Linked DNA regions of Homo sapiens. The protein of the gene in region 1 interacts with the protein of each later gene in a biochemical or structural test. Each region holds a gene or a part of one and is shown in the gene's direction. Other genes may lie near its edges. The genes, in order: TNP1, PRKACG, PRKACA, PRKACB and PPARG.

The links.
Region 2: of the proteins of TNP1 (region 1) and PRKACG, one has a biochemical effect on the other in vitro, tested with the Homo sapiens proteins (one study listed by BioGRID).
Region 3: of the proteins of TNP1 (region 1) and PRKACA, one has a biochemical effect on the other in vitro, tested with the Homo sapiens proteins (one study listed by BioGRID).
Region 4: of the proteins of TNP1 (region 1) and PRKACB, one has a biochemical effect on the other in vitro, tested with the Homo sapiens proteins (one study listed by BioGRID).
Region 5: the proteins of TNP1 (region 1) and PPARG form a complex in vitro, tested with the Homo sapiens proteins (one study listed by BioGRID).

What each region holds. Positions count from the first base shown.
Region 1 is NC_000002.12:216,857,650-216,862,785, reverse strand, and holds TNP1 (spermatid nuclear transition protein 1), read left to right. Parts: upstream 1-2,721; 5' UTR 2,722-2,751; coding exon 2,752-2,890; intron 2,891-3,090; coding exon 3,091-3,119; 3' UTR 3,120-3,328; downstream 3,329-5,136. UniProt on the Homo sapiens protein: Plays a key role in the replacement of histones to protamine in the elongating spermatids of mammals.
Region 2 is NC_000009.12:69,010,833-69,016,879, reverse strand, and holds PRKACG (cAMP-dependent protein kinase catalytic subunit gamma), read left to right. Parts: upstream 1-2,766; 5' UTR 2,767-2,787; coding exon 2,788-3,843; 3' UTR 3,844-4,376; downstream 4,377-6,047. UniProt on the Homo sapiens protein: Phosphorylates a large number of substrates in the cytoplasm and the nucleus.
Region 3 is NC_000019.10:14,092,613-14,098,788, reverse strand, and holds part of PRKACA (cAMP-dependent protein kinase catalytic subunit alpha), read left to right. Parts: intron 1-898; coding exon 899-1,025; intron 1,026-1,114; coding exon 1,115-1,210; intron 1,211-1,305; coding exon 1,306-1,428; intron 1,429-4,996; coding exon 4,997-5,161; intron 5,162-5,551; coding exon 5,552-5,677; 3' UTR 5,678-6,176.
Region 4 is NC_000001.11:84,184,253-84,190,428, forward strand, and holds part of PRKACB (cAMP-dependent protein kinase catalytic subunit beta), read left to right. Parts: intron 1-847; coding exon 848-930; intron 931-6,176. UniProt on the Homo sapiens protein: Mediates cAMP-dependent signaling triggered by receptor binding to GPCRs.
Region 5 is NC_000003.12:12,413,084-12,419,259, forward strand, and holds part of PPARG (peroxisome proliferator-activated receptor gamma), read left to right. Parts: intron 1-3,620; coding exon 3,621-4,071; intron 4,072-6,176. UniProt on the Homo sapiens protein: Nuclear receptor that binds peroxisome proliferators such as hypolipidemic drugs and fatty acids.

The sequences.
Region 1 (5,136 bases):
TGAACAAATATTTACTGACCACCTAGTGTGGGCCATGCTAGTACCTGCGGAAAATGCAGTAGAAATAAAAGGTACAGTCCCTAACGAGAAGGAGGCTATCGCCAAAGTCAGATCATTTCAGAGATCACCTAGCCCAATCTGCTTATTTTTAGAATAAGGGAGCTAACGACCAGAGAAGTCCAGTCAGGACCAGAATGAAGACACACCACCTCCTGTTGAAACCAGTCTAACACACATGGCTGGCAATGCAGGCATAAAACATGATTTCACACAATTAGGGTTGGTTGTCTAGACTTTAAAGCCAATATTATACAGACAATAAACTTTGAAGAAGTTTCAAAGGACAGTGAAAATTTGATAAGTTGGGAAGTCTTCCTTAGAGATGTGGGGCAAAATGGGAAGGAACAGGATAGTTAGAAAAATAAAAGAAGGACTTTTTATTCATTGACCAAATGTATTTCACAAATACTTACTGAGCTTCTATTCTGTGGCAGGACTGATGAACTCCCAGGGAATATTCAGTAGTGAGCCCAATTTCTCAATTCCTGCTTTCACAGAGGTCCCTGCTTTCATGGGGGCATGTTTGTAGGAGAAACAACCAGCCTTGAGTGGACGCAGAAGGTCTGGACTACCAACAAGCAAGCCAGCAGCCTGTTTTATAGAACTTCTTCATGTGAATAAAAGTCACCAACAAGTCACCAATAGAAGGTCTCCAGAGAGACCTGCCCAGAAGCAGGAAAATGGAAAGTGTCACATATGGTGGCTATACAAGGAATCTGGGTTTCAAAACTCAATTTGCCATCTATAGATATCAGAAAACCAGGGAGTGGGACTTGAACTACTTTCGCTCTTCTATTCAACCAACTTTTGCTAAGGATCTCCTGCATACAAGATGCTCAGTTCTTGAATGAGGGTAATGACAATGGAGAGAGGAGAGACAAATGGAAGAAATAGCAAACAAGTTCTATAGAAATCCGAATGAGGCGGGCACAGTGGCTCACGTCTGTAATCCCAGCACTCTGGGAGGCCAAGGTGGGCAGATCACCTGAGATCAGGAGTTCAAGACTAGCCTGGCCAACATGGCGAAACGCTGTCTGTACTAAAAATACAAAAATTAGCTAGGCATGGTGGCACACGCCTGTAATCCCAGCTACTCAGAAGGCTGAGGCAGGAGAATTGCTGGAACACAGGAGGCAGATGTTGCAGTGAACCAAGATTGTGCCACTGCACTCCAGCCTGAGCAAAAGAGAAGACTCGGTCTCAAAAAAAAAAAAAGAAAGAAACATTTTCAAAAGCAAAGCATTTACTATGAGGTGTAATGGAGGAAAAAGGAAAGGCTGGATGACTTATACACCAATAATCATTCAATATATCTATTTGTAAGTGTCAAAGGCACTTCAAAGCTGGTATGTCTTATACCAAGTACATGATCATCACTCTCCCCATGTCTGGCCTTTATCCCCATGAATGGCACCAGCATCCAGATAACTGCATTATACAGAAACAAAAGCCACACCCTTGACACCATCTGCTTTCACCTCCCAAATTCAATCCGTCACCAAGCCTTGGTCTCTTGTCTACTTTAGATCTCAATCAACACCTTTCCTGGCCAGACCTAAACCATCATCAAATCTTTCTCTCTGCTGAACCATTGATGTTGACAGTAGCATCTCCCTTTACACAGCTCCTCCAGTCAATACATCACCCACTTGGCACCCTCTAATCTCACATGCCATCCTCTTAACATTTTTAAAGGCTTCCCAATGTACTTGATCATGGTTTGATCTCTGTCTCTCCCTCCAGCCTCATCCTGTACCATGTAGGGAGTTTCCCTCTGCCCTTCTCCAGCCAAAATGACTCCGTAAGTACTTACTCACTGATTTATGTAGACATCTGATGAATGGCTTTCTCCCCAGTGGGCTGAGAGTTCCATGAGCACAGTATCTACGTGTGTTTATCCTCCACTAATTTTCTACCACCTAAATGTATGGCATATGCTATGTGATCAATATCTGTGACTGAATTTTAAAAAATGATTAGGTTAATTGTTCTGAACCAGAGCCATTTTTTCCCTCACTTCCCCAGCCTCCCAAAGAAACAGGTGGCAATGTTTGGGAATATTTTGGGTTGTCATAGCTGCCAGGCTTCTCTGGTGTCCAGTGGGTAATGGCCAGGGATGTTGCCAAACATCCTAGGGTGCACAAGACAGCCCACTGAAAGTTACCCTGCCCATTGTGTCAACAGTGCCAAGACTGAGAAATCCTGACCTAGATGAAAAAGAAGGAATATTTCTATTTTGATCATATTGAATTGGGTTCTGTAGAGTCAAGTCCTTACAGAAATAAATTTATTATCTCTGGATGCTGTGAGAGACTTAAACAGTCATGCATACACACACACTCAATGACTGTTACATTTCCTACAGGCAGGAGAAGCATATCTGAATGGTCTCTTGTACTCATCCAATGCCTGGCACAGGGCTGGGATTCAGTTTCTCAATAACACCTCTCTGGGAAAGCCTCACTTAACATAAAAAGGACCTCAAAACTGAGGGCAGCCCTTGAGCTGCACGAAAAGGACCACCTTATTTCACAAATGTGACCAAAGTGCAGCAAAGGTGAGTGACAGCACAGTAGAGCCCCGCCCACCTGCTGAGCCATGCCCCTTCCCTGTCACAATGGCCAAGGCCTTAAATACCCAGACTCCTGGCCCCCGGGCCTTGCAAAGCCCCTCATTTTGGCAGAACTTACCATGTCGACCAGCCGCAAATTAAAGAGTCATGGCATGAGGAGGAGCAAGAGCCGATCTCCTCACAAGGGAGTCAAGAGAGGTGGCAGCAAAAGAAAATACCGTAAGGGCAACCTGAAAAGTAGGAAACGGGGCGATGACGGTGAGTGAGGGATGGGGAGGAGATTGCCAAACTTAGGCACACATTGCTGCCAGGCCCTCCCTCTTGGAGGCAGCTCTCACAGGACCCTGAAATCTTGGCCTGAGATTATTTCCAATAACTAAATGCAGATTTGAGCAACAAGAGTCTTGATGGGAATGTTCTAATTCGTGTCTCTGTTGCAAACCTGTCCTTTCCCACAGCCAATCGCAATTACCGCTCCCACTTGTGAGCCCCCAGCGGGCTCTGCCCTGGTGCGCTTCACACAGCACCAAGCAGCAACAAGAACAGCAGAAGGGGAACTGCCAAGGAGACCTGATGTTAGATCAAAGCCAGAGAGGAGCCTATGGAATGTGGATCAAATGCCAGTTGTGACGAAATGAGGAATGTATATGTTGGCTGTTTTTCCCCAACATCTCAATAAAACTTTGAAAGCAGAAATGTTTACTTTGATCTTTTGGTTGGAAAGACTTGAGTTCCTGAGCTAGGTGGGTTTGGGGAAGAATTGGCCAGTATGAAACCATTAAATGTGACTTGGAAAATATCAAAAGTAATTTGTCCTCCAATTCCCTCCCACCACCGTGGGAGGTGGTCCTACTCTGGCCACACACTATTGCCGTATTTGTCTTCATCCCAGTGTGCTGTCTCTCTCCTCAACATGGAAAGGGAGAAGAGATAAAAAAGGGAGAAATGCATTCATTAGCATTAACCAAAGGATTCAAGCTGTTTTTGTTAGAGCTTAAACCAAAGGATGCAAGCTGTTTTCGTCAGAGCTTATAGCATAGAGGTGTTGAAAGCTAAACTAAATCTAAAGACTTGGCCCGGAGATAGAGATCACCTGGAGGAGCTCTTAGAAGCTCTTAATTCATTGATCATATGGGCAGTATTAGCAGGCTAAGAGATGGGAACACCTTCTGAACAGAGACCAACATGTTCTTTGTAAAGGATCCTATTGGTAACAGTGGAAGTGATGAGAGTTTAGATTTCTTTAGGTTATTTTGGTAGCTATGTTGGGCTTGAGGTGGGCAAGACTGAAGAGTGGGATATTGCCTCGTAGCATGCCATAAGCCTTAGTCCAGTGTGCCTAGAAGTAGGAATTGTCTCAATCTGAGTATTGATCATTTGACAGAGAGAGAGAGAGAGAACTGACTTTAGGGATAGAGCTGGTTCTGCTCATTTAGGAAATTCCTAAGCCCTCACTTTACCTTGTCCCTGAGTTGTAACACAATTTATGATGTCTCTGGTCAAGGATATGACATTCACCCACTCAGAGGTGGATCGTATTTTTCTTGTTTCCTGTTGCCTCAGAGGTAGCTCCAGGGTAGAAATGAGACTCATATTTAAACTCAAGAACCAACCACCCACGTGGTTTCTGGGGAAGTAACCAGGAAAGGGTATAAGCAGGAAGGAATGAGGGGGCATGAGGTTAGACACGAAGTTTCCAGCAGTCAGGGGTGTGAGACATGGGAAGAGGACACTATTAAGTCTGAGCCTCATGCAAATGTGTGGGTACCAGGATGTTGGTCCTATAAGGGGTGGCAAGGGGTGTTCCTGTGGGTCAGAATCTAGAAATGCAATAAAAAAAAGCATGTTCATTTTTCAGATAAGTTATTTCACTTGTTGGGGTAAAATATTTCAAGTCCTCACTCTTCCATAACCCTAAGAATGAGCATGCTGATTCAGAGCTGTTTTCAAGTTCATGTGAAAAACATCTCTCCTTACCATCAGGCACACAGATACTTCAAAGTTTTCCATTGTCAGTTTCCCTTTTTGTTAAATGGAGGATAGGGATAGGGAAAATGCTTCATAACCCTCATCCTCCATGGTTGTGTATATTTTACCTCCTAAATGTGACTTTTGTTTGTCTTTGCTTCTCTAACCAAACTCAGATTAGTCTCAAATAATCCTATATGTGTCCGTAGTGTCACTGAACGAAGCTCTAACTTCTTAGAAGTTTGCACACATATCTGATCTGGATTCCCTCCTTCAAATCTCTGAAAGAACTCATCAGCCATGGCTCTCACCCTGCTCTCATGCCTCCTGGGACTTCCTCTGCCTCTGTATAAAATATAAACACACTTTGCAACACATGAAATCTAGAAAATAAATCCAAAAAGTAAAAATTGTTTAATTATTTTAATGTGCTTTTGCTGCTCTTGCTGTAAATTCTTTTAAACTTAGCCTCATAGGTTGGGTTCTCAGGGAGTGGAGATGGAGCTTGAATGCAAGATGTTTATTAGAGGTCAGTA
Region 2 (6,047 bases), on another chromosome or scaffold:
ACAGTAAAGAGGAGAATCAGCTGGCATGACTGCCAGTGAGCAGTTTTTTGGGAGAAGAATGGTCTTGATTGCCTTTCATTGGGCATACAGGAAAGCAGAGTTGGCTTTCACCTCTTCATTTGGCCCCCTAGGCAAGCTCCAAGCAGATCATGCAGAGGTATTGTATCTTGCTACACAAATCTTTTCCTTCTGAAAGGGTTTATCTGAATGCAAAAGGATTCCTGTTTCCTTGGCATGCTAAGGACTCCCTTGCTCCCCAAGGCCATGGAGAAAAGCAGAACGGAAAGTGGAGAGAAATAACAAATGTAATTATTCTGCAGCTTGTTCTGGGATAAATACTTGATGTTCTGACCTGTAAACGAAGCATGGGGACATTTCTAGTGTGCAGCATATGTTCCCTCTAGACCCCTGTGTCTTCCTAATTGAACTTCAGAGATTAATGCCACAAGAATTTGTCATGGAATGGCACAGCCTGCTTCTAAACAAACTGTCCCACTTCCAAGGCGTCGGTCCAAGAGAATGGCTTCCCACTAATTGCTCTTTGTGTATAAATTTCTACTGAATAATCTGGAGGTAAGTCAGAAATGGGCAGAATTTTAGCAGATCTACTGTGATGAAAATGAAGAGGAAATCACTGAGATTATGGGGGAGACGTGGAATTTCCATCTGCCAGGGATTTGCCTTGACCCAAAGCACAAGGGGCAATTGACCCCCCTGCTATGTTCTTGAGGGAATGTGGGTTTCCCTTTTGTGGAAGTTCAGATGATCAACAGTAGATTTTTCTCCTTTCCTCTTCTTCCTCTCTAACCTGACCGTCTCTGAATATACAGTCAGTACCCAAGTACTGGCCCCAGATTAAACCGTAAACTCGGAACCAGGCCTTGCACACAATAGACACCTGCTTGACCAACATCTGCTGAACTGAGCGGCAAGAATTCACAGTCACAATAGAAACCTTCTACTTGGAGTCAAGTAATCAGGGATTCCTCTCCAATTTGCTTGGTTTCAGCCTGCAGGGCTAGGTGAAAGTGTGTTGTTTACTTGCACTAGCTACAGGCGGTGTAGCCAGGGTGGGTAGGCAGAATTAGCTGTCAAACTTAAAGGGCAAGATGGAGAGAAAATAGGAGGATAAATGGGTATTCCTGTAGCTCAGTGTTTATGATGTAGGACAGAATCTTTGTACAGAATTGACTGGGGAGAGCAGCTCAGAACCCACCCTGTGATGGCTGAGTGCTGGCAGTCTTCTGGAGGGTGTGTGGGGCGGCTGACATGGTGGCCTGGGGGAGTGATGGAAGGCCCATCATCTATGTACTTTGACTTCTCATAAACTCCTGTGGCATGTTTTTAATAATTGATAGAATAAGTAAACAGAAAGTCAATAAGAATATAGAAGACCTGAACACTACTACTAGCCAACTTGACCTAAGTGACATTTGTAGAACACTGTATCCTCAAACAGCAGAATACACCAGAATATACATTCTTCTCAAGTGCATATGGGCCATCTACCAAGATAGATCATATTCTGGGCCATAAAATGAGCCCCAAGAAGTGTAAAACATTTTAGGTCACACAGAGTATGTTTTCTAACAATGGAATTAAATCAGAAATCAATAGGAAAATTCTTGAAAAATCCCCAAGTATTTGGAAACGAAATAATATACTTTTAAATAGCTTATCTGTCAAAGAAGATGAAAAGGGAGCTTAGAAAATATTTTGAGCTGGATGAAAAGGAAAATACAACATACCAAAATTTGTGGGATGCTGCAAAAAATAATACTTAGGAGGAAATTTATAGCACTAAGTGATTGTAATAGAAGAAAGATTTCAAATCAGTGACCTTAGTTCCCACCTTAGGAAATAAGAGCAATTAAACCCAAAGCAAACAGAAGAAAGGAAATCATATGTATGTGTTAAAATAAAACATTACATGCAGTAAAACTGAATTTTGGGGGGAAGTATACAGTTCTTTGAGGTGTTTGTTTGTTTGTTTGTTTGTTTTTGAGATGGAGTTTCACTCTTATTGCCCAGGCTGGTGTGCAGTGGCACGATCTCTGCTCACTGCAACCTCTGCCTCCCAGGTTCAAGCAATTCTCCTGCCTCAGCCTCCCGAGTAGCTGGGATTACAGGCATGCGCCACCACGCCTGGCTAATTTTTTTGTATTTTTAGTAGAGACGGGGTTTCACTATGGTGGTCAGGCTGGTTTCGAACTCCTGACCTTGTGATCCGCCCGCCTCGGCCTCCCAAAGTGTTGGGATTACAGGCTTTAGCCACTGCGCCCGGCCAGTTCTATGAGTTTTAAAACAAATGTAGACCACCACCCAATACATTGTAACCACCAGCACAATCAGGATACAAACATGTCCCACCACTTCCCACATTCCCTCAGGCTGTCCCTTCATAGTCCAACCGTCCCCTAACCCCAAGCCCTGGCAATCACTGATCTGTTCTCTCACACTATAGTTTTGCCTTTTCTGGAATGTCATAGAAATGGATTCATACAGTAAGTCTCCTTTAGAGTTGGCTTCTCTCACTTGCATAATGCCTTTTGGATTTATCCATATTGTTGAGTGCAGCGGCGTGATCTTGGCTCACTGAAGCCTTGACCTCCCAGGCTCAAGAAATCCTCCCATCTCAGCCTCCCATGTAGCTGGGAATATAAGCGGAGGCCGGGCGGGGGTCGCAGCGCCGCAGCCAGCGCAGCCAGCCCCAGGGGGCGCCATCTCCGCCGCTGCCGCCGCCGCCGCCGCCGCCGCGAGACCCCCGCCCCTGCCGCCGCCACCGCCATGGGCAACGCCCCCGCCAAGAAGGACACCGAGCAGGAGGAGAGCGTGAACGAGTTCCTAGCCAAAGCCAGAGGAGATTTCCTCTACAGATGGGGAAACCCCGCTCAAAACACCGCCAGCTCGGATCAGTTCGAACGGCTCAGGACGCTGGGCATGGGCTCCTTCGGGCGGGTGATGCTGGTGAGGCACCAGGAGACCGGCGGCCACTACGCCATGAAGATCCTCAACAAGCAGAAGGTGGTGAAGATGAAGCAGGTCGAGCACATACTGAACGAGAAGCGCATCCTGCAGGCGATCGACTTTCCGTTCCTCGTCAAGCTCCAGTTCTCCTTTAAGGACAACTCCTACCTGTACCTGGTGATGGAGTACGTGCCGGGTGGGGAGATGTTCTCCCGCCTACAGCGCGTCGGAAGGTTTAGCGAGCCCCATGCCTGTTTCTATGCCGCCCAGGTCGTCCTGGCCGTCCAGTACCTACACTCGCTCGACCTCATCCACCGCGACCTGAAGCCCGAGAATCTCCTCATCGACCAGCAGGGCTACCTGCAGGTGACGGACTTCGGTTTCGCCAAGCGCGTGAAGGGCCGCACTTGGACCTTGTGCGGGACCCCAGAGTACCTGGCCCCCGAGATCATCCTGAGCAAAGGCTACAACAAGGCCGTGGACTGGTGGGCCCTAGGGGTGCTCATCTATGAGATGGCCGTGGGCTTCCCACCCTTCTACGCCGACCAGCCCATCCAGATCTACGAGAAGATCGTCTCTGGGAGGGTGCGGTTTCCCTCCAAACTCAGCTCTGACCTCAAGCATCTGCTGCGGAGCCTGCTGCAGGTGGACCTCACCAAGCGCTTCGGAAACCTCAGGAACGGGGTTGGCGACATCAAGAACCACAAGTGGTTCGCCACAACCAGCTGGATCGCCATCTATGAGAAGAAGGTGGAAGCTCCCTTCATCCCGAAGTACACAGGCCCTGGGGATGCCAGTAACTTTGACGACTACGAGGAGGAAGAGCTCCGGATCTCCATCAATGAGAAGTGTGCCAAGGAGTTTTCTGAGTTTTAGGGGTGTGCTTGTGCCCCTGTGGGTTTTCTTTCCTTTTTGTTTTTGGTGGTTTGGGGGATGGGAGGGTTGGATTGAACAGCCAGAGGGCCCCAGAGTTCCTTGTATCTAATTTCATCCTCACCCCACCCTCCAGGGTTGGGGGAGCAGGAAGCCCAGATATTTGGAGGAACAGAAACACCAGCTGCTCCCTCACCCCCCCCCATGCCTTCCTGGTCCCTCTGTGCTTCTCTCTTTCTCCTCCCACAGGGTCCCCCTTGCCCCAGCCCCCTTCTGCCTGTTTTAAACGAGTTTCTCAGCTCTATTCAGGCCAGGTCTTGCTGTTGTATCAAGGGACACGGTGTGGAAAGAGGGGCTCAAACTTAACTCCAGCCCTGAACAGGCACCACTTACTAAGAGAGGATGAATGAAAAGCACACCTACCCTTTGGCGTAATCCTGCCTGGGAAGGAGAGAGGTTTAGTGCCATGTTCAGTGGGCTGTTTGCTAGAATAAAAAATTAAAACAAAAAACAATTAAAATCTTATTTAAGTTCCACCAGTGTCCCCTTTCCTCCTTCCTCTACTTCCACCCCTCCCACCCTTCCCACCTTACCGTGTCTCCCCATTCCATTTTAACAAATCCAGGAAGCCGACTGACTTTGGAAGGAGGCTCTGGGGTTTGAACTTCCCCCATGAACTGCTGATTTCCCCCTCCCCCCTCCCCAGGGGCATCCTCTATCACTCTTGCAAAGGTCTCAGTTCTTTTAGGAAGCTCCACTCTCTTCTTCCCCAGCAGACTTTTCTTCACCCTTGGGCTTTGGGAGCCAGAAAAGCAGCTGCCCTACTCCCTGCCAAAGAGGAGTTGTCCCCCAAAAAGACAGAGTGGGAGTTCCAAGCCCAAGTCTTTCTTCACAGCAGCATTTCCCCGAAACTCCTTAATTTTATTCTCAGCCAGATTGTGATGCCCAGCCTCTCCTTATGGGAAGGCAGTCCTGCAAAAGGACATGGAAGAGGCCCAGCCCCTCCACCCCCACCTCATCGCCCAGGGTTCAAGGCTAGGGTTGCTGGGGAGGGGCTGCCTGTTTTATTCACCCAGCAGCTTCTGCCTTCTCCCATCCTGGGTGCCCCTCTCCAGCTTAGCTGTCAGCCATCCTTCACCTCTTCTCCCCTGCCACCCCGTGCTGTTTTCAATTTTTTTTTTTTTTTGACATGAAGTCTCACTCTGTCACCCAGGCTGGAGTGCAGTGGTACAATCTCAGCTCACTGCAACCTCCGCCTCCCGGGTTCAAGCGACTCTCCTGCCTCAGCCTCCCGAGTAGCTGGGATTACAGGGGCCCACTACCATCCCCGGCTAATTATTGTATTTTTAGTAGAGACGAGGTTTTGCCACATTGGCCAGGCTGGCCTTGAACTCCTGACCTCAGGTGATCCAGCTGCCTTGGCCTCCCAAAGTGCTGGGATTATAGGAGTGAGCCACCGTCCCTGGTCTGTTTTCTTTCTTAATAGAAAAGTGAGGAGCTGCTGGCAAGCCACCTCATTCATCTTCATATTTCCCCCTCTCATCACTTCTCCCCATCCCAGGAGGAGCTCTCAGGCCTGGGGTGGGTCCCCAGGTGGGCTCAGGGTGATTCAACCTGCTTGCTGTGAAAAGATGAGATTTCCTCTTGAACAGTGTGCTGTTGTAAACATATGTCAAAACTATTACCAATAAGGCCGGGTGCTGTAATCCCAGCACTTTGGGAGGCCAAGGCAAGTGGATCACTTGATGTCAGGAGTTTGAGAACAGCCTGGCTAACATTGCAAAACCTCGTCTCTACTAAAAAATACAAAAATAGCTGGGCGTAGTGGCATGCACCTGTAATCCCAGCTACTTGGGAGACTGAGGCAGGAGAATCGCTTGAACCTGGGAGGCAGAGGTTGCAGTGAGCCGAGATCGCATCACTGCACTCCAGCCTGGGTGACAGAGTGAGACTCTGTCTCAATACAACAAAACAAAAAACCAACTATTACCAATAAAGTTTTGTTAAAAAAGAACTGGCAAAACTAATCTATGATGCTGGAAGTCATAATAGTGACCTTTGAGGATGGCATTGGTGGAGAGGGGACATGAAAGAGCCAGCAGGTGGCCAGGCACGGTGGCTCACGCCTGTAATCCCAGCACTTTGGGAGGCCAAGGCGGGCGGATTACGAGGTCAGGAGTTCAAGACCAGCCTGGCCAACATGGTGA
Region 3 (6,176 bases), on another chromosome or scaffold:
GGTGCCATGGCTCACGCCTGTAATCCCAGCACTTTGGGAGGCCGAGGCGGGCGAATCACAAGGTCAGGAGTTCGAGACCAGCCTGACCAACATGGTGAAACCCCGTCTCTACTAAAAATATAAAAATTAGCCGGGCGTGGTGGTGCACACCTGTAATCCCAGCTACTCAGGAGGCTGAGGCAAGAGAATCACTTGTTTCCAGGAGGCAAAGGTTGCAGTGAGCCGAGATTATGCCATTGCACTCCAGCCTGGGCAAGAGAGCGAGACTGTCTTAAAAAAAATAAATTAATCAAAAAAAAATATATATATATATATACACACACACACACATATCTACATACATACAGAGGTGAGGTCTTGCCTATATTGCCCAGGCTGGTCTCGAACTCCTGGGCTCAAGCGATCTTCCCACCTCGACCCCCCAAAATGCTGGGATTACAGGGGTGAGCCACCGCACCGGGCCGAATCCCTCTCTTGACACGTCACCTCCCCACCAAAGGCAGTTGTCCTTTCTGACTTCAAACACCGTGCCTTTGTTTTGTCTGGGCGTGGACATGATATAAATGGAATCATTCATGTTCTTTTGTGTCTTCTTTTGCTTAACATAATCAGTTTGAAATGCAGCCACATTGTTGAGTGGATGCATGGGCTGTCCTGTTGGCGGTGGTGGTGGTGAGTGGAATTCCATTGTATGACTATAGCTCAGTCTGTGATTCCATTTTCCTGTGGATGGACCCACAGGCTGTTTCCCATGTCGGGCTATCTAAGAATCAGGTGCCTTGCGTTTCTGACGGCTGGACTGGAGGTGTCTTCCTCTGGGGTAGGCTCTGCAGGGCCACCTGCTGGACCATTTTGGGGCATGACCACTGACGTTCACCTCCCCATTTGTCCCCATCAGTGAGCCCCATGCCCGTTTCTACGCGGCCCAGATCGTCCTGACCTTTGAGTATCTGCACTCGCTGGATCTCATCTACAGGGACCTGAAGCCGGAGAATCTGCTCATTGACCAGCAGGGCTACATTCAGGTGCCCACCAGGCCGGGCGAGGGGCAGCCCTGGGGAAGCCGTGGCCTGGACCCTTCCTCCCTGCCAACTGCCTGTTCTTGTGCCCACAGGTGACAGACTTCGGTTTCGCCAAGCGCGTGAAGGGCCGCACTTGGACCTTGTGCGGCACCCCTGAGTACCTGGCCCCTGAGATTATCCTGAGCAAAGTAGGAGCCTCCCCAGCCCTCCCCTTCCCCTGAGGCCGGCTCTGCTCTCCTGCTCTCGCCTCCTCCTCACCCTGTGCCCCCCCATCTTGCTCCAGGGCTACAACAAGGCCGTGGACTGGTGGGCCCTGGGGGTTCTTATCTATGAAATGGCCGCTGGCTACCCGCCCTTCTTCGCAGACCAGCCCATCCAGATCTATGAGAAGATCGTCTCTGGGAAGGTGAGGTCCGGATGTGGGGACACAGCCCTGGAAGAAACAGACCGTTCCCTGCTCACCCATCCTATTCCCTGGGGAGCCCTGCTTGTTGTCAGAATAATCTAGAAGTTCCTTAAGTCAGGCCAGGTGGTGAAGCTGGACGCGCCGGCCACACTGAGGCCAACACCTCAAGCCCCCTTGCTGTCCAGCCCCAACCCCGCGGTTCCAGAATCCCATGGGCTTCCAAAATCCCGAGCCTCACGGGAACATCTTGGCCACAGAACACAAACCGCCCTGCCAGACGACCCTCCTTTTCGCTCCTCATCCCAGTTAGTGTGAGTTTTCGCAAATTCCAAGGCAGAAAAACGAATGTATTTGGTTCCTGTTCCCAGGTGCTGTCCATAGCCTCACCCAGGATTGCCCTCACTTAGCATTTATAGCCCATGCTTCCTCTCCCAAACCCAGACTTGCCTAACTCTGAGGGTTCAGATGAGGGGTGGTGAAGCCATCTCAGCTCACATCTATGACAGGTGCAAAGTGCCCACCATCCACCAGGCCCCAGAATCCCCATCAGTCACACCCTGAGATAGTGGCACCCTCTGTAGGAGAGGTGAGGAAACAGGCTGGGAAAAGGGATGTGTCTTGGCCAAGATCACACTTTGGTGAGTAGGTAATCACCGTAGGCAATCATTGTAGGCACTGATGGCCGGAGAGAGGTTGGGGACCCCACCTCTGCCCTCAGCTCAACCACCTTGCTGGGAAGACCCGACCATCCCCCGACTTGGTCCAGCATCTCCTACACAGGAGCTTTTGGTTGGCCCGGAGTCATGACACTGTGGTGGGAGCACCCTCAGGCTCAGCCTGGGCCCCAGTCCCAGCTCTGCCACCGACTGGCTTTGAAACTTTGGGGCTGGGTACAATGGCTCACACCTGTAATGCCAGCACCTTGGGAAGTGGAGGCTTGAGGCCAGGAGTTCCAGACCAGCCTGGGCAACATAGCCAGACCCCATCTCTAAAAAAAAAAAAAAAAAAACAAACTGGCCGGGCGCGGTGGCTTACACCTGTAATCCCAGCACTGTGGGAAGCCAAGGCGGGCAGATCACCTGAGGTCGGGAGTTCGAGACCAGCCTGACTAACATGGTGAAACTCCGTCTCTACTAAAAACACACACAAAAAAAATTAGCTGGGTATAGTGGTGGGCGCCTGTAATCCCAGCTACTTGGGAGGCTGAGGCAGGAGAATCACTTGAACCCAGGAGGCGGAGGTTGCAGTGAGCCAAGATCACACCATTGTACTCCAGCCTGGGCAACAGGGCAGGACTCTGTCTCAAAAAAAAAAAAAAAAAAAAAAAACTAAAAATTAGCTGGGCGTGATGGTGCACCCCTGTGTTCCCAGCTCATCGGGAGGGTGAGGCAGGAGGATCGCTTGAGCCCAGAAGTGAGCTGTGAGCTGTGATTGCATCACTGCAGTCTAGCCTGGGTCACAGAGCCAGACCCTGTCTTTTAAAAAAATTCAGGCAAGTGGGGTGCCCCAGCTGGACACATAGCATCACTAAAAGAGAAAGATGAAGGCCAGGCGCGGTGGCTCACACCTATAATCCCAGCATTTTGGGAGGCCAAGGCAGGTGGATCACGAGGTCAGGAGTTCAAGACCAGCCTGGCTAACATGGTGAAACCCTGTCTCTACTAAAAATACAAAAATTAGCTGGGCGTGGTGGCGGGTGCCTGTAATCCCAGCTACTCGGGAGGCTGAGGCAGAGAACTGCTTGAACCCGGGAGACAGAGGTTGTAGTGAGCCGAGATTGCGCCACTGCACTTCAGCCTGGGTGACAGAGCAAGACTCTGTCTCAAAAAAAGGGAAAGATGAGGCATCTGCCACCGGACCAAAAGAAACTGCCAAGAAAATGGCCCAGAGTTGGCCGGGTGTGGTGGCTCACGCCTGTAATCCCAGCACTTTGGGAGGCCGAGGCGGGCGGATCACGAGGTCAGGAGTTTAAGACCAGCCTGACCAACATGGTGAAACCCCGTCTCTACTAAAAATACAAAAATTAGCCGGATATGGTGGCACACACCTGTAATCCCAGCTACTCAGGAGTCTGAGGCAGGAGAATCACTTGAAACCGGGAGGCAGAGGTTGCAGTGAGCTGAGATTGTGCCACTGCACTCCAGCCTGGGCAACAGAGCAAGACTCCATCTCAAAAAAAAAAAAGAAAAAAAGAAAAAAAAATGTCCCAGAGTGGGAAAAAAAAGAAAGAAAAAAACACAGAAGATCCCACAGGAGAAGATGCACATGACTCCCTTCTTTGTAGCATTTTCTAGTTCCCCCGCACCGTCAGTGGTATTATCTCCCTCGTGCAGCCCTGGCATATCTGCCCCACATCTGAGAGGCATGCGCAGGCCCAGAGAGGTTAAGGGCCATGGCCAAGGTCACACAGCGTGTAAGAGGCACAGCAGGAACAAGAAGTCGTTTCTTGCAACTATAACTCCAGTGATGACTTGCATACAAGGCGTGGGCTCAGAGGGTTTGGGGAAAACTTTCAAGAAGAGTTGAGCTGGGCTTTAAAGAACGGAAGAGCCTTAGCTATGCAGAAAGAGAGGAGAGAAAAAGTTTGTCATAAGCAAGAATATTTCAGAAGTCTCCAGACCCCAGCAGAGATGCCTTAAGCAGCAGCAGCAGCAGCTGAGAATGCAAGTTCTAGAGTCCAGTAGACCTGAGATGGAATTGCCCCATCACACACCTCAATGTGACCTAGGAAGAGCTGTTTAACCCAAGCCTCAGTTTCCCCTTCTCTGAAATGGAAATCATCATAGCACTTGCCTTAGAGCAATGGTTCTTAAAAGGGACCCCTTTCCAGCAGCACCATTGCTGGGGAATTTGTTAGAAATGCAGATTCTTGGGCCAGGCACGGTGGCTCACACCTGTAATCCCAACACTTTGGGAGGCCAAGGCAGGTGGATCACCTAAGGTCAAGAGTTCAAGACCAGCCTGACCAATATGGTGAAACCCCGTCTCTACTAAAAATACAAAAATTAGCCAGGTGTCTTGGCGTGAGCCTGTAATCCCAGCTACTCAGGAGGCTGAGACAGGAGAATTCCTTGAACCCAGGAGGCGGAGGTTGCAGTGAGCCCAGATCGCACCACTGCACTCCAGCCTGGGCTACAGAGTGAGGCTATTTTTTTTTTTTTTTTTTTTTTTTTTTCAAAAAAAGAAATGCAGATTCTTGCTGGGTGTGGTGGCTCACGCCTATAATCCTAGCACTTTGGGAGGCCAAAGCAGGAGGATCGCTTGAGCCTAGAAGTTCAAGACCAGCCTGGGCAACGTAGTGAGACCCTGTCTCTACAAAAACTTCTTAAAATAACTAACTCTTGAATTTTTAAAGTTTTTAAAGAAATGCAGATTCTCAGGCCACAGTATCAGACTTCCTAAATTGGAAACTGTAGGGTAGGCTCAAGGAGCTGTTTTACAAGATGCTGGCAGGCACTCTGCTTTGGAGGCCCACACCCAGTAGGACCGTTGGATGGAGAAAGAAGCATCATGGGCTTCCCAAGTTCCAGACCAGCTTCCCACCCTGTCCTTGTACCCCTTCCTCCAGGTGCGCTTCCCTTCCCACTTCAGCTCTGACTTGAAGGACCTGCTGCGGAACCTCCTGCAGGTAGATCTCACCAAGCGCTTTGGGAACCTCAAGAATGGGGTCAACGATATCAAGAACCACAAGTGGTTTGCCACAACTGACTGGATTGCCATCTACCAGAGGAAGGTGGGCCTCCCCTCCTTAAGCCTGCTGAGGGTTTGGGAGCAGGCCAAGAGTCAGGGAGGACAGCCAATAGAGAAATAGAGAAGAGAACACAGGTTCAGGAGCAACCTAGAGTAGAGAGCTTAGAGCAGTGGGGTCTAGAAATGGGATTCTGGGGTCATTTGGCCATTCCATGACCTTGTGCAACAGATGCCTCTCTCTGGGAAGTAATTTCCCCTTTGATGAGTTGCTACATTAAGAGTTTCGGGCTGTTAAGAGGAATCCATAACCTAATGGTAAGCACAGGCCTGAGTCAGAGTAAATATCTCTTGAATGTTAGGCCATTCGCATTTATTGTTGTAATAATGATTATGTTGAATGCTGAGGTCTGGGTGATTCTTGATCCCTCTCCAGGTGGAAGCTCCCTTCATACCAAAGTTTAAAGGCCCTGGGGATACGAGTAACTTTGACGACTATGAGGAAGAAGAAATCCGGGTCTCCATCAATGAGAAGTGTGGCAAGGAGTTTTCTGAGTTTTAGGGGCATGCCTGTGCCCCCATGGGTTTTCTTTTTTCTTTTTTCTTTTTTTTGGTCGGGGGGGTGGGAGGGTTGGATTGAACAGCCAGAGGGCCCCAGAGTTCCTTGCATCTAATTTCACCCCCACCCCACCCTCCAGGGTTAGGGGGAGCAGGAAGCCCAGATAATCAGAGGGACAGAAACACCAGCTGCTCCCCCTCATCCCCTTCACCCTCCTGCCCCCTCTCCCACTTTTCCCTTCCTCTTTCCCCACAGCCCCCCAGCCCCTCAGCCCTCCCAGCCCACTTCTGCCTGTTTTAAACGAGTTTCTCAACTCCAGTCAGACCAGGTCTTGCTGGTGTATCCAGGGACAGGGTATGGAAAGAGGGGCTCACGCTTAACTCCAGCCCCCACCCACACCCCCATCCCACCCAACCACAGGCCCCACTTGCTAAGGGCAAATGAACGAAGCGCCAACCTTCCTTTCGGAGTAATCCTGCCTGGGAAGGAGAGATTTTTAGTG
Region 4 (6,176 bases), on another chromosome or scaffold:
TACCTCTAGAGTTTGTGTAATTAAATCCTATTGTGCTTATAACTTAGGTAACGTTTGAAAAGGTTTTGATTCTCCCTGGGGAAATTGTTCAAAGGTGATACTCATGAGATGGTATTACAAAAAGAAATATTTCAATTTATCAAAAACCATAGGGATATCTTAATAACAATTCTTATGCAAATTCATACACCCAACACATTTTCTACTTTGATTAAGCCCTTTTTGCCACTATCTCATCTTCTTTTACTTAGTAATTTGAGTTCTAGTCTTTTCACTTATACAAAGCAAAATTTTTGTTCCACTATTCAAATGTCTGAAAAATTGTACCACATTTATTATTTAAATTGGTCACTTTTGAGCTCTTTGGAATGATACTGGCATCTCTCTGCAATATTGAATCATATGAAACATTTTAATCTTTTTTCTCCTTTATTCTTTAAATTAAATGAAGACCTATGTATTTAAAATATTAAAACCATTAATCTTTTATACATAAAATGTAAATATTCTTATTAACTTTTTAAATTGTTTTTTACCTTTGTTATTCTTTTGCATATATTATAACGTTACTTCATTGCCTGAGTATTTAATTGTTTGAGAACTAGATGTTCTCTGCAAGAAAAGGAAGAGCAAAAGTCCCAGACTAGTTTGTGGCAAAAATAACTAGGAGGGGAAAAATATGAGTGTCTCTGTATAGAAAAGCTAGAGCATGTTCCATTTATTCTTTATTTCTCAAGGTTATTAATCTGTCAGAGAGATTTTAAATTTTTCTAATTCAGCATTATATAATATTAAAATAATTTTGACCTAAGTTGAATAATTGTATTTCCTTTTTATTTGTTCATAGGATAATTCTAATTTATACATGGTTATGGAATATGTCCCTGGGGGTGAAATGTTTTCACATCTAAGAAGAATTGGAAGGTTCAGGTAACTAATGGTTTTGCTTTCTTCAAATCTTTATATGCTTGTGTTGTTTAACCAGATTTTTAAGTTGATGCCAATGCCAAAAACTTATTTTGTTTGATTAATATTTTGGCCATATGAAGCATTAGGTGGAAACAAAGAGGCCACATCATACACAAGTTTTAATATAAAGAATATAAAAATTTAATATAAAAAAAGGACTTTGAAGCCAATTTAAATGTTATACTACTGCTAGATATTGTGAGGGTCCACTACTTGAAGAGTTTTCAGAAAATGGAAAAATTAATTGAATTTTAAAATATCAATATTTATTAAACAAAGATTAATAATACAACTCCAGGACAGAGGATTGTTTTAAGGATGAAGATGGAAAATAAATATATAGAGAAATAATAATAATAGTATTATGGTAATAAGATTATAAAAGTTTGTTTTTCACAAATTTAATTCTCCTTAAAGTTCTTGCTAAGTTTAGTTTTTAAAATATACACATAATTTAACGGGAGTTTGTACCTCATCAGGTTATGACTAATAAGATCTCAGAGTTATTAAAATAGGTTATAGAATCTGATGGTTTTACCTGTACTTAATAGTTTATAAGCTTCTACCGTTCATTAATAATCACTAATAGAATAAAGCTAAAATAAAAAACAGGTACAGCTTCATTCAGTATAGTGTGTTGAAGTCAAAATAAAAATGTAGAGACAAATCTCTAAATTCAACATTTTATTGAGGAAGCAAGAATTGCAGTTTGAGGCATATACACAGACTAGGTGGTCTTCAATGTGTCTAGAAAACAAAGAAAAGGTTGGAGGTTTTATAAAAAGAAATTTTATGTTTATTTGTTTTGAAACAAAGTTTACTAGCACTAGTTAAGTTTTGGGGAGCTGGCAAGCTCTGATTGGTGAGTGATGGTGGTGGGTCAGACTCGTCTAAGAGTCGCAGTAGGTTGTCTCAGTAGCTGTTAGAGAAAACTGGTTTCAGGTTACAATAGGCAGTTTCAGCAACTAGACTTGTGGAAAATATAATTTTTTTGTTTGTTTTTGGTTTTTTTTTTGAGACTGAGTCTCCCTCTGTTGCCCAGGCTGGAGTACAGCGGCACCATTTCGACTTACTGCAACCTCTGCCTCCTGGGTTCCAGTGATTCTCTTGCCTCAGCCACCCGAGTAGCTGGGACTAGAGGTGTCCGCCACCACATCCGGCTAATTTTTCTATTTTTGGTAGACACAGGTTTTCACCGTGTTGGCCAGGCTGGTCTCGAACTCCTGATCTCAAGTGATCCACCCTCCTTGGCCTCCCAAAGTGCTGGGATTACAGGTGTGAGCTACCACACCTGGCCTTAATTCTTGGAGCAGGTGCTGTGTGCCCTGAGTGCGTTATTCCCTGGCCCCTCGACTCTGATTTAGTTAGGTATGATGAGAATGACTAATTTGTATAATCAGCTTTCACATTTTTCCCTTTTGATCAAGATCTTTCTCTGAAAGCATTGCTTGTCAACCATCTTGAAGTTAGGCTTAATTATTCCTTGGTGCTCGGATGGACTTGTTCTGGTTGTCTCTGTCCCACATATGAGAGAAGTTATCTGTTGGGGGGTGTCTATGTAGGGACCTGGGCCACATTCAAGTAACGAGGAGGCCAGAAGGAAAATTTTTCTCAAAGTAGATTTTTGTCTGGAGTCCAGCCAGCATCGAGTTCCCACTTATCACTTCCATAGGTATTAGCAGTCATCTTTAAGTGTTGGGCTAACGTTATTCTGTTGGGACAGCTGCCTTTACAAAGATTAGATAGGCACTAAGAACAAAGCTTACAAATGATAGTACAAAAAAATTAACAATATAGTAAAATGTATTTGTGCAGTGCTTTTGAACTAAAGCCCAGGCCTAAGGGCAAAAAACTAAAGAAATCAAAGGACCAGGGGAAACTGGTGAGACCTGCTATAGCCATTGACTAACATTTTATGACTGGGTTGAACTAAAGCAGAGAATGCCAAACTTTGCAAGAGGGACCACCAGCACAAATTAAACAAAAAATTGTGTTAAGGATATTGTCGATGTTGTGACTAGATGAACTGAAAGAATTTCTTAAGTCAGGCTTTGTCAATGGCTTTAGCAGGTCTCACCAGTACCTATAGCAGTTACTGATTGTGAATTTTAAATTACAATATTATTTGGTTAAGTGAAAAAGCAGGCATTAAGAGGGGTAAGAGTTTCATTACAATATGGAGTCTTGTTCTAGTGTTTTGAGAAAAGCTGTTCACACCATGGAAAACATCAACTTTCTTGGCTTTGTTTACAGTGTAAATGTCTCTGGCTATGGCTTTGGGCAGTTTGATGAACTTTCTGTGTGGCCCATACATCAGGCATGAGACTTGTTTCTTAAAATTTATATAGTTTCAGCTAACAGGACTTCAGGAACAGAGCGGTTCTCATTTTAGTAATTTTATGGAAGAAAGTTCGATTGGAGGAACCTAGAAGAATTTAGGACCTTGTCTAGTCTATAGGTAGATAACAAGACTCAAAAATAATGTACAGACTTACAGTCTAATAACAGGTATATTATAGTTATTCTTTAGAAAAAACTTTTTTCTCTACATTGATTACATAGGAATCTTGGATTTAAAAACCTCTTGAGGCAAGGAAGCCGAACCAAGGCAGTCTTAGATTTTCCTTACAGTCTTGAGGTTCCTGGTCCTGCCAGGAAGTAACAGTTTTTATTTACTCATTGTAATGCTGAGAAACCCTTGAAGTCAGGCATTTTATGCACTTTTTAAATACGATAGTTCAGTTAGAGCCTTAGTAATATAATCAGTGTTTTCATATTCTGCTATAAAGAGAGAGCAGATTTTTACTGGACCTGTGCAAATAGTCATATTCCCATAAAAGTACTTACAACTAATTTTTGAATTAAGGAGAAAAAAAGCAAATGCTTTTATCTTTTTTTACAAAAATATACTTTACCAAATTGCTATAAATTATAAATAGCTAAAGAGATAAGTTTTTTTAAATCTGGAAACCAAAATATTTAAGAACTAACAATGTAACAATGTTTTAAATGAAAGTTATGAAAACATTATTTTTATCAATTATTTAATTTCATGTAATTTTTGTTCTGCTTGATCTTAATTAGTATTTTCATATACTCATCTTTTTTTATTAGGGTTCTGGAAATTTTTATTTAGTCTATTGATCTTAAAGTTATTAAAAACCTGTATTTAAGGGTACTTGTTGGGGTCTTTTCTATGAATCTGATTGTAAATAATTTTGAGAATTCAAAATATTAACTCTGGATGACAAAAATCTAGAATAGCCATGGGTAAAAATCTGATGAAAGTTTACAATTAACAAGTAAAATTAGTTATTTCTATTTTATCTAGCATTTTAAGACAATAACCAGAATTATGAATAACGTTAATTTCTCTGAATTTATATAATTTTTGAAACATTCATATGAACAACATAGCCATAAATGCAACTAAAAGATCTAGTATCACATCATTTATACAATCTCTTATATAATTTAAAAATAAATCTAATTATTTAATACGTCTACAAGATGAGATCTGTGTCTTCAAATGTTTTCCAAGGGCCCAGCTGGAAAATCCCAAAGCTAATTCTAGATTAAGAACATTTAATTTAGGATTTGATTTTTGGGAAGTTTGTTAAACATCTTAAAAGACTTAAAACCCTTGGTCAAAACGGAGTAACAGGTCACTGTAAAATAATAGTCATTTATTTAACCAGAGTGATAATCAAAAGACATCAGATGTAATACAGAAAGTTATATGAATGTGAAAACTTTTATTATTTTTAAAGCTCAGTTTTTCTGAGTAATGAAAAACCTGATAAAGACAACATAGGATATTATCTTGATAAAATATAAAATCTAGTTTTTTAGACAAATCACCAAAATGGTAAAGAAAAATCTTCTGCAGTATGCTCATTATTTCTTTTTCCCATTTAGAGCTTTCCATTAAAAAAATTACCAATCATCTGAAAGTTGATTGAGTACTTGAATTTAATCAGACACAGGAAGAATGTGTCCAGGGTTATTGAGTGTACACTGTGTTATAGAAAAATATGAACAAGAAGAGGACTATCTTGAGCAGGGAAATACATGGCTCTCAGTAACAGCATGAGAAATTTCCTGGTTACATGAAATAATACAGACATACCAAGAAGAGCCAAGAATACAGATTCAAATTATACTGAAAGAAAACTTCGTTTTTCTAGGCCTTTAAGATAAACGTTTCTGCATCAGGCCATAACAAAGTTCAAACTGAAAAAAAAAAAAAAGTTCTAGGAGTTGAGGAAAAAGGTTGAAGGAGGGAGTTATCAACCCAGCCAAGCAAAAAGATATACCTTTCAAGAAAGAGAAGGGGATGTATGACCTTCAAATCATGTGTAGTGTGACACAGCAAAAGCCGAACTTCTGAAATATAAATTTCAAAAGGAAAACTTTACCTCAAGAAATGGAATTACTATTTTTAATGAAGAGGACAGCATTTCAAACCTAAAACTAGGGAAATTAATTAGATCTCAGGAAGAAATGTGGCAGAAATAGAAATTGCACTTTGGAAGATGGCTGTCAAAGAAACAGATTTTATAATTAAAAATCACAACCTTTTGCAGTATTATTGAGAGCAGATCAATACTTCAAGAAAGTTTTGTTTAAATATAGAGAGCAAGATTCTGGTCCTTTGTCAGTGCACCCTTGACACCAATCATTAATTTTTAGAAAAATATGTAAACAATTTTCCTTTCCAATTTCTTTCCCTAACTATTTACACATAAAACTTTTTTCATAAGGTCCATCCTTTCATTTTTCCAAACCCCCAGTCTTAATCTTATAATTTTTCTTTTCTTCTTCCTCCGTTTTTGGAACAGCCAATCATTTTACTTTAGGAAAAATATTTACCACCTAATATACTTTTCATACAACATATTTTTTTCTTACATTCATATTTTGACTACTAGACCTCAATATACTTAAACTTTTTATAGAACTTAAGAACCCAATAAGGGATTTATATTTATTTAGCAATTTGTTTTAGTTTTTAAACTTATTTGTTATGGCCCAGACATCTAATAAGTATCTTATTATTTAATTTAATATAACATAACTGTAAGACTTTAAATTACATGAGACATTGATTTATAAATGTTTATTTAATTAACATTCACCTAATTTATTCATTTTTATTAATTATCCCTGGATTACTTATGAAAATTGAGATATTAGGCAGAGTCGTT
Region 5 (6,176 bases), on another chromosome or scaffold:
TTTTGTATGGAACATTGTACCACATTGTACCAAATGTCATGTTAAATTAATGATTCAAGATAAAATGCAGACCAAATTTGACCAGGGTTTTAAGAGGTTCTCTCTCCATAAAGCAGGCTGGCCACGATCTTCTCACTAGGTTTGAGGGTAAGGAGGTCCCCTGTGAAATATGAAAGTGAACTCTCTGCTATCTAAGAATTGGTGAATTGGTTGCAAAGAAAGGCAGACCAGGCCCACCCAGGGATCACTCTTGCAGTTTGACAGATCTACCTGGAGGCTGAAAGAATCTATGCAGCCTTCGGAAATGCAGTGAAAACAGTATAATCAGATATGACTAGGGAAAAAATAAAACAACTGGTGTTCATTTGCATGTCAACACCCAGAATTCTCTGCTAGTTCACCTCTTCTTCAGAATGCAGAAAGGATTGAAAAAGCTGGAATGGGGCCGGGCATGGTGGCTCATGCCTGTAATCCCATCACTTTGTGAGGCAGAGGTGGGTGGATCACCTGAGGCCAGGAGTTCAAGACCAGCCTGGCCAACATGGTGAAACCCCGTCTATACTAAAAAATAAAAAAATTTAAAAAAAATTGCCGGGCGTGGTGGTGGGTGCCTGTAATCCCAGCTACTCTGGAGGCTGAGGAGAATCACTTGAACCCAGGAGGTGGAGGTTGCAGTGAGCCTAGATTGCGCCATTGCACTCCAGCCTGGGCAACAGGAGCAAAACTCCATCTCAAAAAAAAAAAAAAAAAAAAATGAAATGGTTTGGCATGATGGTGGGGTGCTGATTCCTCTCTCTGTCCTTGAGTATTTACTGCCAGGAAATCCTGACCAACATCAATTGCCAAGGGGTTAAAGTCACATTGTTGTTAAATTGGGAGAGAAAATTAGCAGGATTTTGTGCCCTATGTTCAACTATTACAGAGTTTCAAAAACAGGAACCTGGAGCTTTATATGAGGGGACAGGGGAAGTAAAGGGGAAGAGTGACAAGGGTGATTTATCAGGGCATAGTTCCAGATAAATCACTTACATGGAGGTGAAAGAATTTCATGCATATGTTCTGTGCCAAGAAGCCAAATGGTTGAGCAGAAGCTCTGAAAGTTGAAGTGGGCAGTTCTGGGTACAGTCTTTCCACATGTGAAAAGGTGATGATTTTATATTCATGTTATTTGTACTCCTGCATGTGCAGTTGGTCTTTTCAGGTGTCCAGATCATCATTTTCTCATGACATGAAAGAAAGCCAATAAAGGCTAGTTGTGGTGGCTCACACCTGTAATCCTAGCACGCACTTAGGGAGGCCAAAGCAGGACGATCACTTGAGCCCAGGAGTTCAAGACCAGCCCAGGCAACATACATAGCAAGACCTCATCTCAAAAAATGAAATAATTTTTTTTTAGAAAAAGAAAGTAAATATTTCATTAATATAAATTATAATACACTGTAAAATGCCTGGAGGACAAGAAACACGTTTTCTCTAGGTTCTGTGAAAGCATCATTATCCATTCACATTTTTCTCATAATTAGAACCTGACGTTCTGGAAAAATACAGTAAATTTTCATCGATGTTACTTGCTCTGCCCCCCTTGTATTCCTCCCATTAATAATATTAATCCTGAAAAGAAAAAAAGAAAAAGGAAAGAAACCACCCAAGCAAAATGTTTAAGAAATACGGTAAGGACAGTTTGGTCCCAATTTCCTTAAAAATTAGAGCCACCAAGTAAACCTGTTTGGGGGTCCTCACATCTGTCCTCTTTTGGAGTTTGCTAAGTAGTACAGTTGAAGTGAATTTTTTGGTAACAAAAGTAAAAACTTCCAGAATAACTCCAGTAAAGGGTGTTGATGTGACGTACAAGTTTGGAAATATATTTAATATCTGAGACTCCTCAATGTTGGTGTTATTTCCTCCAGTTTAGAACAAACTTAATCTTTTGATGAAAATCATAGAGTTCCATAGATATGAATAGAATCTCCAACCAGTGCATCTTGAAGCCGGCTGCCACGGCCACTCATGCACCTTCTCTCCTTTCAGGAGAGAATTGTCAGCATCTCTGCTCAAAACAATCTTTACTTTTAGTCCATCAGAGACTTCATGTTTGTCGTGCATGCACACTCACACCTCTCCACACATATGCCCACTCCCCACACACATCCTGCTTCTGAGAAATGCAACTAGAATTTCCTCCGGAGAAGAGATGGAAACCCCTGATTGAGAAATTTAAGGCCTAGGAAAGGTAAATGACTTTTCTTAAGTCACATGGCTCACCACAGAACCAAAGCTGGAACACACATACCCTCAGCTCTTCTTCCAGTGCTTTCAGGTATACAAGTATTTGAACAGGATTCAAGGTTTAACTCCTTATGTGTCATTCAGTGTATCCAGTGTAAGTAAAATGTTACCCCTTAGTCAGAACAGCCTTGAGAATTTCTCAATGACTACAAACCTTGCTTAGTTCTATACAAGGGAAGTAAAAGAGAGAGAATGTCATGACCAAATGACTTAACTTTTGAAGGCAGCCTATTGCAAACTTGAATAATTGGGGCATGTATTTTATTGATTGTTTGACCTATAAGGACAGATATTTTAAAATATAAATTCAAAATTGCTTTTTTGCAGCATTCACCTGTAGGCCTTCTATATCTGCTCTTTGTGAAATAGATGGCTTCCAGAGCATTAAAAAAAGAAATAGACATTTTCTTGGTTCAAGAGCTGTAATCTGCTTTCCGAGTGATTTTTCATAGTTAAGCATATTTTATGTGCACATAGTTTCATTTGAGATCTGAGAGGATTTCATCTAAAACGGAAAAGTTATTACCTGTGAAGGAGAACAAAGGAAAAGGAAAAAGAAATTTTAAGAAAAAAAAATTTTTTTAAACCTGTAGTTACTTTATGTTCAAGTGGGTATTTTCAACGCTGAGTTGCTGAAATGGTTTTTTATTGAAAGAAGGTTAAAAGTGTATTTCATTGAAAGCCAAGATAAACAGTAGATTTTGTATCATTTTAAAAATCAACAATCGGCCGGGTGTGGTGGCTCATGCCTGTAATCCCAGCCCTTTGGGAGGCCAAGGCAGGCAGATCACTTGAGGCCAGGAGTTCAAGACCAGCCTGGCCAACATGGTGAAACCCCATCTCTACTAAAAATACAAAAATCAGCTGGGTGTGGCAGTGCATGCCAGTAATCCCAGCTACCCAGGAGGCTGAGGCACAAGAATTGCTTGAACCTGGGAGGTGGAGGTTGCAGTGAGCCCTGATTGTGCCACTGTAATTCAGTCTGGGCGCAGAGTGAGACTCTGTCTCAAAAACAAACAAACAAATAATATAAAAATCAACAATGAAGACTCCCCAAACAAAAGAAATCAGGATTCTTAGCCAGTCATAGGTAAAGTGTTACAGTGTAAATTGAAGGGAAAGAAGACCAAAATTGGTGAAATATGTTTGGTCCCAGAAGATAATTAAGATGAATAAAAGAACTTGAGAGTATTTTCTCATTATTAAGCATCTTCAGCTTTAAAGATTTTAGTTAGCAAAGCAAGTTTACATAAACAGTTTTCTGAACCTGGGATGGCATTCACTGTGAGTTAGAAATCTCCAAGTCATCCACGTTTTCCCTGTTTTATTTGCAGCCATTCGTTATCTATGACATGAATTCCTTAATGATGGGAGAAGATAAAATCAAGTTCAAACACATCACCCCCCTGCAGGAGCAGAGCAAAGAGGTGGCCATCCGCATCTTTCAGGGCTGCCAGTTTCGCTCCGTGGAGGCTGTGCAGGAGATCACAGAGTATGCCAAAAGCATTCCTGGTTTTGTAAATCTTGACTTGAACGACCAAGTAACTCTCCTCAAATATGGAGTCCACGAGATCATTTACACAATGCTGGCCTCCTTGATGAATAAAGATGGGGTTCTCATATCCGAGGGCCAAGGCTTCATGACAAGGGAGTTTCTAAAGAGCCTGCGAAAGCCTTTTGGTGACTTTATGGAGCCCAAGTTTGAGTTTGCTGTGAAGTTCAATGCACTGGAATTAGATGACAGCGACTTGGCAATATTTATTGCTGTCATTATTCTCAGTGGAGGTAAGATTTGTCTTTTGATCTTCTATGAAAGAGGGTGGGATGATGGTGGGGTGGCCAAAAGAATTTTGGATTTCCTTAGTGTTAGTCTGCATTGTCACTTTAAGTGCCAGTGGCATGATGCCATGAATCATCACTACACGTGCAAAACACTGTACCAAGAAAGAGTGTCATAGGTTTGCGGTGTGAAGGTTATAAGTAACCCAGGATCTTCTCTTTCATCCCTCAACAATATATTTTTTCCAGTCAAATGCCCTCTTCTCCTTTTTCTTTTTCTTTTCTTTTCTTTGTCTCTTTCTTTTCCTTCCAGAAAGGAAGATTAGAGGCCAGTCTAATCTTTGGTTCCTGTAAGTAATGGCATGTATAACTTTGCTTAAGACAATGCTCACTTGATGTAGAGAAGGGACCACTAAGTATTTCTGGTCAAATCATGCTCCTGCCCCACCATCAGTAAGATACTACTTTGAATTGCTTTTGTGATATCAGGAATTAAGGAATACCTACTGACCTCCACCCACTCTCTTGTGTGGATTCCTCTGATGGCTTCCCTTAAAGTACCTTTGTGAGGTAGTTGGTTGTGATTAAGAATGCAATGTGAACCGAACACACAACATAGAAATAAATTTAGTTATTTAGCAATTTGTTGTATTTTTGGCCCTGCAAGTAGTACATGATCTGACTAACCAATTCCAAAAGCCAGATTTTCTTCTGAGTGTGACTTTTTTCTTTTTTTTTTCTTTTTTTTTTTTCCTTTTTTTTTTTTTTTTTTTTTTTGTGAGACAGGGCCTCACTCTGTCACCCAGACTGAAGTGCAGTTGCACAGTCATAGCTCACTGCAGCTTCTAACTGCAGTTAGTAAGCTATGATCATGCTACTTCATAAAAGTAATACGTGGCCATTTTACAGTTGGGCTCAAGTGATTCTCCCACCTCAGCCTCCCAAGTAGACAGGACAACAGCTGCACACCAACATGCCCTGCTAATTTTAAAAATTTTTTTGTAGAGATGAGGTCTCATTATGTTGCCCAGGCTGATCTCAGATTCCTGACCTCAAGCAATCTTCTCACCTTGGTCTCCCAAAGCGCTGGGATTATAGGCATAAGCCACCACGCACAATCTAAACATTACTTTCATTAGCCTCTCATGAGTAGAAGAAAGTTTTACTTTCATCTCTCTGTATAAAAATTGTTTTTAAGTGGCAAGTTTTCCTATTGAAGTGGACTTTAGGTGAGCTTTTTGTATGTACTCTACAGTGTATCCTCTGTGAAAAACCCGTCGGGGGATAGTGGTAAACTGTATATAACTGCACAATGTATTATAAAGAGCACGATCCCTTTGTCATCTTTTGTTGTCCAGTTGAAAGGAGAATGTTTCTGAAATCAGGTGCATAGTGCAGTAGTCATAAGAATAGCAAACATTTATTTAATACTTGCTGTGTGCCAGGCAGTGTTCTAAGCACTTCATGCATATTTATTCAATCCTCACAACAATTCAGGGAAGTAAGGACCATTTTACAAATGAGGAAACCAAAGCACTGAGAGGTTTTCTCATTTGCGCAAGGTTACGTGGCTAGCAAAAGATGGAGACAGGATTGTGAGCCAGGCATGCTGGCTCAGACTCTACACTCTCTACCATCACATCATGCGGAATACCGGCCTTTAAATGCCTAGGGTGCAAATAGATCACAGTATGGCATAGTTTACCTTTGGAGCTGTGAAGTCCAGGGTCAAGTCGTGATTCACTTTAAAATAACTACTTGATATTGTGGGTTTTTGTTGTTGTTGTTGTTTGTTTTTTGTTTTTTTGTTTTTGAGGCGAAGTCTCACTCTTGTTGCCCAGGCTGGAGTGCAATGGCACAATCTCGGCTCACTGCAATCTCCACCTCCCGGGTTCAAGGGATTCTCCTGTCTCAGCCTCCCGAGTAGCTGGGATTACAGGCACATGCCACCACACTCGGCTAATTTTTGTATTTTTAGTAGAGACGGGGTTTCATCATATTGGTCAGGCTGGTCTCGAACTCCTGACCTCAGGTGATCCGCCTGCCTCGGCCTCCCAAAGTGCTGGGATTATAAGCATGAGCCACCATGCCCGGCCGACGTTATGTTTAAT